Regions from separate parts of the Homo sapiens genome. Here region 1 is linked to region 2. The links come from fine-mapping of genetic effects on gene expression. A gene starts in region 2. The other region holds a variant in brackets. All regions are shown on one strand. Distances are from middle to middle.

Region 1 (4,391 bases), 78 kb after region 2:
GAGCTGAGATTGTGCCACTGCACTCCAGCCTGGGCCACAGAACAAGACTCCGTCTCCAAAAAAAAAAAAGAAAAGCTGAAATTTTTTGTGTTATAGTGCATGTCCTATCAGTAGCATCCTTATCAATTATTAAGACCATTATTAATCTGAATGAGATACTATTGAAGAGAGAAAAAAGCCATAGGAAAGGCATTGTTCCAAAAACTTGCATTATATACATAATTGTCATAGAAACTGTACAAACCTAAGAGAATGTGCAGCACATAGCAGATGTTTAAAAAATATTTCCTGAGGCCGGGTGCAGTGGCTCACGCCTGTAATCCCAGCACTTTGCGAGGCCCAGGCGGGCAGATCACAAGGTCAGGAGATTGAGACCATCCTGGCTAACATGGTGAAACCCCGTCTCTATTAAAAAATGCAAAAAAATTAGCTGGGCATGGTGGCGGGCACCTGTAGTCCCAGCTACTTGGGAGGCTGAGGCAGGAGAATGGCATGAACCCGGGAAGCGGAGCTTGTAGTGAGCCGAGATCACGCCACTGCACTCTAGCCTGGGTGACAGAGCGAGACTCCATTTCAAAAAAAAAAAAAAAATTCTGCTGAATGAATCTTGAATTGATTCAACCAAAGCTTATAATGGTGCCTACTCTATGCAAGGCAGCATGCCTAAGAGAATACACCAAACATTTACCAAATATCTACGCTGAGTAAGGCACTGTGAGATTTTAAAGTTAAATAAAACATACCCTGAGTTGAATTAAACGTGCCCTCTTCTTTACCAATACCCCAGAATTCAACAAGTCATTTTTCTAAAATATTACTTATTTGAAATATATATTATCTACTTAATATGCCTGCACAGTGCATACATATATTTATGTGTTTAATATACAGTCAGCTCTCCATATCCATGGTTTCTTTTTTTTCCCCTTTTTTTTTTTGAGACACAGTCTCACTCTGTTGCCCAGGCTGGAGTGCAGTGGCGTCATCTCAGCTCACCTCAACCTCTGCTTCCCGTGTTCAAGTGATTCTCCTGCCTCAGCCTCCCAAGTAGCTGGGATTATTATAGGCACATGCCACTGCACCCGGCTAATTTTTGTATTTTTAGTAGACATGGAGTTTTACCATGTTGGCCAGGCTGGTCTCAAACTCCTGACCTCAGGTGATCCACCCGCCTTGGGCTCCCAAAGTGCTGGGATTACAGGCATGAGCCACAGCGCCTGGCCATATCCGTGGTTTCTACGTTTGTGAATTCAACCAATTTTTTTTTTTAATGGTATCTTACTGAATGTGCATAAGACTTGTTTTTCTTCTTATTCCCCAAACAATACAGTATAACTATTTACATAGCATTTACATTGCATTGGGTATTACAAGTAATCTAGAGACGATTTAAGGTAAACATTAGGATATACACAGGTTATATGCAAATACCACACCATTTTATATCAGGGACTTGAGTATCTGTGGATTTTGCTATCTGCAGGAGGTCTTGGAACCAGTCCGCCATGGACACTTAAGGACTGTATATATTTAATATATCTACTGAAGTTTCAAAATCTTGTTAATCCATTCTGAAGATAAATTCCTGAGTTTCTAGTAACAATGCAACGGAATCTGTTGGCATCCAAGCAGAATTCCTATTTTTGTGGGCTAGCAGATGACTGACCCACCCAGAGGACAAAGACAACATAGAACACAGTAATTTATGCTGTGTTTTTCTGATTTCAAATGGAACTATGTTCCAAAGTCATTCTGTTCCAATCCTTTATATGTCGTCCTCTCCCAACCACGTGGTCCTGTTGAAAGCCACATAGCACAAGAGATAAATACTTGTTCCCTCAGAGACCTGTTTTTATATTCAATGAAGCCCCATGTTATTTTTATTCTTTTAGCACCAGCATTTCAGTGAATGCTTGTTTGTTCAATATTTACCTTAAGGAATATGAAAAAACAGAACAAAGGTCAGAATTTAACCCAGAAAACTTCTGACTACTCACTCGGTGAAGTGACGTGAGAGATCCCCTCAGTTGGATATTTCTCCTGCATGGCCATCAATCACAGTTATTTAAGCCAACTGTAGAATGAAGGAATAACCAGTCAGTTCTCTGAAGTATCTTTAATTCCCCGCAACTCAGTTCC[C/T]ATTCAACTGAAACTGTCAAAACCATATAGAATATTCAAGTATTTGGCCAGGCACAGTGGCTCACACCTGTAATCCCAGCACTTTGGGAGGCCAAGGCGGGCAGATCAACTGAGGTCAGGAGTTCGAGACCAGCCTGACCAACATGGGGAAACCCCATTTCTACTAAAAACACAAAAATTGGCCGGGCATGGTGGCACACATCTGTAGTCCCAGCTACTTGGGAGGCTGAGGCACAAGGATTGCTTGAACCCGGGAGGCAGAGGTTTCAGTGAGCCAAGATCACACCACTGCACTCCAGCCTGGGCAACTGAGCAAGACTCCATCTCAAAAAAAATAAAAAAGAATATTCCAGTATTCTAAATGTTATATTCCTAAGGATATTTAGGAGTAAATATGTTTTTACATGTTTTACTTCTAAGGATATTTTTAAGACAAAGTAAATCCCAATACTCCACTCTACTTCTCTTCCCAAATCCAGTATAGAAAACCTAGAACCAGAGATTACCAATACAGATTCCATACGGTCCTAGAACCCTTCTGATTTTTATAAAATTTAAAAATATTACTTTTAATTAACAAACTTTACCATGAATCTTCTTAGCCATGGGGACCTGATGACAGGACGAGGTGGATAAAGAACTAAAGAACTAAACCAACAGTGAAGTATTACAGCATCAATTATGATTAACACAAAACAAATTCCTCAATTCTTCCAGTAATTAAAGTCAGTCATACGATGTAAAAAGATGGGAAAGAATTCTTGCTCATAAGTAGAACTCCAATCCTGAGCTAGGAACGTGAAGTTCTCGTCCCATGTTCTCACTCCTTAAAATATTTATATTTACAGTACACTAGGGGTAGGTGCTGAGAATTCAGCAGAAGTGGATTTGAAGTCTAAACAAATACACTTGAACCCACTAAACATTAAGTTATCAATTTATTAGCTGTGTAACCTTGGGCAAATTTCTTAGTATCTCTGTTCCTCATTTTCTTCATATAAAAATGAGGATAACAACACAACCTAATTCATGTTAATTCACTTATAATTAACTTACAACAGTTCCTGACACATACTAAGTGCTGTTATTACTTGGCAATTTACATCAACAAAAGTAGCACTGTACAGCCCATGGAAGATCAAGGAGTATCAACTCAGAAACTCTAAATTTATAAAAGCCCCAAAAGAGTTTGGGACAATTCGGCCGGGCTCAGTGGCTCACGCCTGTAATCCCAGCACTTTGGGAGGCCGAGGCAGGCGGATCACCTGAGGTCAGGAGTTCGAGACCAGCCAACATGGTGAAACCCCGTCTCTACTAAAAATACAAAAATTAGCCAGGCATGGTGGCAGGCGCCTGTAATCCCAGCTACTTGGGAGGCTGAGGCAGGAGAATCGCTTGGACCATGGAGGCGGAGGCTGCAGTGAGCCAAGATCGCGCCATTGCACTCCAGCCTGGGCGACAGAGCAAGACTCCGTCTCAAAAAAAAAAAAAAAAGAGTTTGGGACAATTCACAGAACATAATTCTATCACTCTGGAGAAAAAAGACTATATGGTACTATTTCTCTAATGTACTTTAGTGACCTCTATAGTATTCTCTTGTTACTAAGAGAATACTATAGAGGTCACTAAAGTACATAACAACCCAAACCCTTATTAATTCACTGCATCTACAATAGAAAGGGTATCATCCTCCACAATTCCAGTTCTTCACATACTGGGTGAGGGAAGCTTTGTTCAGTAATAAAAGCTTTAGTTTATGGCAAGTATGATTCAGTGAGTTAAATGATGACATAGAATGATTAGATTACCTCCTTACTAGTGATTTCCTTTCTTGTCAATATCAAAATCCTTTTCTTCACTCCTTTCTTTAAAGGATAACAAAATGGTAGGCGCACTGGATTCTAAGGTGTTTCTAAATTCAGACAAGTTGAAAATACGGTGACAGAAGGAGAACTCCGAGTTACCCTATGACTCAGCAATTCCACACTGAAGTATACACCCAAGAGAAATGAAAACACAGGTTTACACAAAAGCTTCAATAAGAATGTTCGTAGCAGCATTATTTACAATAGCCAAAAAGTGGAAACAACACAAACGTCCATGAGCTAATGAATGGATACATAAAATGTGGTATATCCAAAAAACAGAGTATTATTCAGCAATAAAAGGAAGTACTGATACATGTGACAACATGGATGAACACTGAAGACATGCAAAGTCAAAGAAGCCAAACAAAAGGCTTGATCCTATTT
Region 2 (4,391 bases):
AGGTCCTGTCAGGATGTTTGACTGCTTCCTGCTTTGACACAGGCAGGGACAGAGGTGATCACTGCCCCTGTCCACCCCCTTTCACAGAAACTTTCTGTTTTTTTGAGATAGAGTTTCGCTCTTTTGCCCAGGCTGGAGTGAAGTGGCATGATCTCGGGTCACTGCAACCTCCACCCCTCAACCTCCCGAGTAGCTGGGATTATAGGCAGCCGCTATCACGCCCAGCTAATTTTTTTTTTTTTTCCGAGACAGAGTCTTGCTCTGTCGCCCGCCCAGGCTGGAGTGCAGTGGCGTGATCTCGGCTCACTGCAAGCTTCACCCCCAGGTTCACGCCATTCTCCTGCCTCAGCCTCCCGAGTAGCTGGGACTACAGGCGCCCGCCACCACGCCACGCCCGGCTAATTTCTTTTTGTATTTATGGTAGAGACGAGGTTTCAATGTGTTAGCCAGGATGGTCTCGATCTCCTGACCTCATGATCCACCCGCCTCAGCCTCCCAAAGTGCTGGGATTACAGACGCGAGCCAGCGCGCCCGGCTCGCCCAGCTAATTTTTGTATTTTTAGTAGAGACGGGATTTTGTCATGTTGGCCAGGCTGGTCTTGAACTCCTGACCTCAGGTGATCCGCCTGCCTCGGCCTCCCAAAGTGCTGGGATTATAGGCGTGAGCCACCGTGCCCGGTCACAGAACCTTTCTTTTCACCTTTCCCCAGCGACCAGCCCTTCTGGCATAGAGGGAGACAGGGGAGCCCTGGCCCTTGACCTTCCTAGCCTGGCAAAGGGCTTAGCTTCCCTGAGCCTCAGTTTCATCTTCTGAGTGGGGAGAAGTTCATCACAGTTGTGAAGGTCACATGAGCCAGGGCTGAGTGAGAAAGCACTTGGCAAAGCGTGGGTGGCTGGATGTGGGGTGGGGAAGTGGCCAGATGGTGATCGAGCTGTCCTTAATGCTTGATGGAGCTGCAACTAGAACTGTTCTTGATGGAGATTAAGCTGGTTTTGATGGTGATCAAGCTGTTCTTGATCAAGAACTTGATGGCTCCGGTCTGCTGTACTGACTCCCCTCTGGGCACCTGGGATGCTACCAAAGCTGCCTCCTGGAATAGCAGTCGCTTTTGAGACTCCAGTTGTTTCTGAAATGGGAGAGTCCTGTCTTCTTTGCATTCCTGAACATCCAGGCTTCTCTCTGGCAGGGGAGTGGGGGTTAGAGTGTCCCCTGTCACCTCCATAACCACAGCAGGCTCCACTTGGACATCTCCTGGCCTCTCCCCAAAGGACCATCTCCCCAGACTCCCTGTGGGCCGATGCCTTCCTCACTCAGGGTTGTCTTCCCAAGTCTCTTAGTTCTCTATTATTCCACAACACCCCTTGGGTGCCCCAACGCGCCTAGCACCCTGTAAGTGCTCCCCAGCTGTGGATACAGGTTTCTCTCAGGGCAGCCCGCAAGCAGTGCAGCCCCAGCCAGAAGAGCTGGAAGGCTGGGCGGCCAGGCCCGCTGTGTCCCCAGTTTTCCTGTTGGAGTCCATCTGCTGTGCTCTCAGGAGAGAAGGCTGGGTCTCTGGGAGCTCACATCCTGTATGCCCTCCCTCCATGCCAAGCAACTTTGGGGAGTCCTGGCAGTGGTGCCAGGCGTTGCTCTTACCTGTACCATAACCAGGAGGCTGATGGTGAGTAGGAGGAAGAGGAAGCGCTTCATTTTGGTAGGATCTTCGTGGCTGTCTTGGTAGCAGCTTTTTAGGTGATCTCAGGGCTGTCTGGAGGCTTCTTTTGGTTTAGCTGCTTTTGAACCAGGAGGCAGAGGAGGCGGGGTGAGGTAGGGAGAGGAAGGAGGGCTTACAAGGTGGAGGAGGGGTGTGGCTTCCTTTCTGCAGATCTGGGGGTGGATAATACCAGGCTCTAGGTTCTAAGGCCCTGGCTGGGGGAGCAGGCTAGATCGTACAAGATAGGAGAGAGGTCAATCCAGAGGCAACGGTGGGAGTAAGTAGGGCCCAAGGCCTGGAATCATGCATCCTGCAGGCTGAATCCTGGTTTAATCACTGACCAGCTCTGAGACCCTGGGCCAGAAACTCTACCTCTCTGACCCTTTAACAAAAGAACTGCCGGATTACATGTAATAATAACCAATTTAAAAAGAGCCAGAACATAGCAGATATTCCGTAAATGAGTTTGTTGTTTAAAGAAGATTGGGGCAGGGTATAGGAGCTGAAGGAGAAGGGCTGGGATAGATTTATGTTTCAAGGGAAGGTTGTAGATGGGCTGCAGGTTCTGAATGAAAGCTTGGGAAATGTTTAGATTGTGGAAGGGTTGGTGGATTTCTGTGAAGGTGCTGGAGGTGAGGAATCGGGAAGCCTGGTTTCAGTTGGGCTTTCCCTCTCTAGGCCTCAGTTCCTCATTTCAAGGAACTGGGAAGACTGAAATAGATTATTTCTGAAGTTTGTTAAAACCTAGTGTTTTGTTTTGTTGTTGTTGGTTTTTTTGTTTTTTTTTTTAAACAGAGTTTTGCTCTGTGCACTGGCATGATCTCGGCTTACTGCAACCTCCACCTCCTGGGTTCAAGCAATTATCCTGCCTTGGCCTCCCGCATAGCTGGGACTACAGGTGTGTGCCACCATGCCTGGCTAATTTTTTGTATTTTTTTTTTTTTTTTAGCGGAGACTGGGTTTCACCATGTTGGCTAGGCTAGTCTCGAATGCCTGATCTCAAGTGATCCGCCTGCCTCGGCCTCCCAAAGTGCTGGGATTACAGGCATGAGCCACCGCGCCCAGCCAAGACCTAGAATTTTGTGATTTTGGTAGAGAAAGTAGCAAGCAGATGGGTTGTTTGTATTAGCTGAGGATGAATGGGAGGGGAGCGAGGGAAGGGACAAGTGGGTGACTAAGCTACAGTGGAAGGGGACTGGGGTGAGAGAGTGGCTGTGAGGGCCCAGGGAGGGGTGGGGGGATGAGAGGAATCCCACAGCTGCCTGGATAGTGCTCCATGCTTTATGCATTCCCTCACTTGATACCCTCTGTGGTGCCCTGCAGCAGGTGTTATGTTTATCCCCATTTGACTGGTGAAAAAACTGAGGCTTAGATGTTAAGTGACTTGCTAAGGTCGTAAATGGTGGAGCCAGTCTCATTTGACCTTGAATCCAGGTCTGTCTGAAGCCACAGCCATGTATGTAACCTCTGGGGCTGCCCTAGAATTCATCCATTAAGTCTTGATTCCCTGCCACTCCCTCCCCCTCCCCTACACAAACTCCCCCCAGGCCCCAGGAGTTGGTCACCACAACCCCAGCTCTGGCCCACTCTCCCTTCACACTCTCCCTTCCTTAGTCTACTTTAGGCCTCATTTACATGCTAGGTAGTAAAGGGAAAACTCCCCTCACTTCTCTTCTATTGTTTTGGGCCTTGTGTTGCAAGCCCAGGGGAGATCTGGCTGAGGCTGAGTCCAAAGAAAAAAACAGAGGCTGGGCATAGGGGCTACGCCTGTAATCCTAGCAGTTTGGGAGGCTGAGGCGGGCAGATAACTTGAGCACAGGAGTTTGAGACCACCCGGGCAACATAGGAAGGCCCCATCTCTCAAAAAAAAAAAAAAAAAAAAAAAAAATTAGCCGGGCATAGTGGCACAAACCTATAGTCTCAGCTACTTGGGGGCTGACGCAGGAGGATTGCTTGCACCTGGGAGGCCCAGGCTGCAATGAGCCATGATTGTGGCACTGCACTCCAGCCAGGGTGACAGAGCAAGACCCTGTCTCAAAAAAAAAAAAAAAAAGGCCAGGAAACAGTGGCTCACGCCTGTAATCCCAGCATTTTGGGAGGCCGAGGTGGGTGGATCACCTGAGGTCAGGAGTTCTAGACCAGCCTGGCCAACATGGTGAAACCCTGTCTCTACTGAAAATACAGAAATTAGCCAGGTGTGCTGGCACATGCCTGTAATCCCAGCTACTCGGGAGGCTGAGGCAGGAGAATCACTTGAACCCGGGAGAAGGAGGTTGCAGTGAGCCGAGATCGTGCCATTGCACTCCAGCCTGAGCGACAAGAGAAAAACTCCATTTCAAAAAAAGAGAAGAGAAGAAAAGAAGAACTGAGAGTCAAAGCTGATGAGAGAAAGCCAGGAAGTGGAGAGGGAGGGGCGGGGAGGGAGAGAAGAGGGAGGAGTCCCCAGCCATCCATCACCCTCTTTCCCCATCCCTGCCCTTTCACCCAGAGGTCTCTCCTCACCCTTGACTCAAGTTCTCAGCTGTCTTTGGTGTGCCTGTGGGGGTGAGTGATTCTGGGGTTCATGAGAGTCAGGGAGGTGTCCTGTGCCAGAAGGGCACCAGCCCAGAAGACAGGATACCCGTGTTGAAGTCTGAGATTACTCTGCTGAAAATGAGCTCCATCACACTGTGCAATCTTCTCCCCTCTTACAAAGAG

Evidence for each region. PIP is the estimated chance that this variant, and not a neighbour inherited with it, causes the effect. A credible set is the group of variants that fine-mapping cannot tell apart.
Region 1: its variant is the best candidate, but not a certain one, in a credible set for the expression of CD52 in whole blood (TOPMed, PIP 0.76).

Annotation. Positions count from the first base shown.
Region 1 is chr1:26,237,445-26,241,835 of GRCh38, reverse strand. CEP85 (centrosomal protein 85) reads right to left here. Exons shown (of 14, transcript NM_001319944.2): 2 at 1,998-2,074. The coding sequence starts at 2,052. Among named protein-coding and RNA genes, the nearest start is that of CEP85, 5.4 kb to the right of the region's middle. The variant C/T (reference allele first, on the strand shown) is at 2,140.
Region 2 is chr1:26,315,317-26,319,707 of GRCh38, reverse strand. It overlaps CD52 (CD52 molecule), which reads right to left and starts at 1,750. Exons shown (of 2, transcript NM_001803.3): 1 at 1,637-1,750. The coding sequence starts at 1,690. It also overlaps a transcript of UBXN11 not described here. RefSeq lists enhancers at 744-843, 1-970, 1,344-1,493, 1,624-1,693 and a silencer at 1,768-1,960.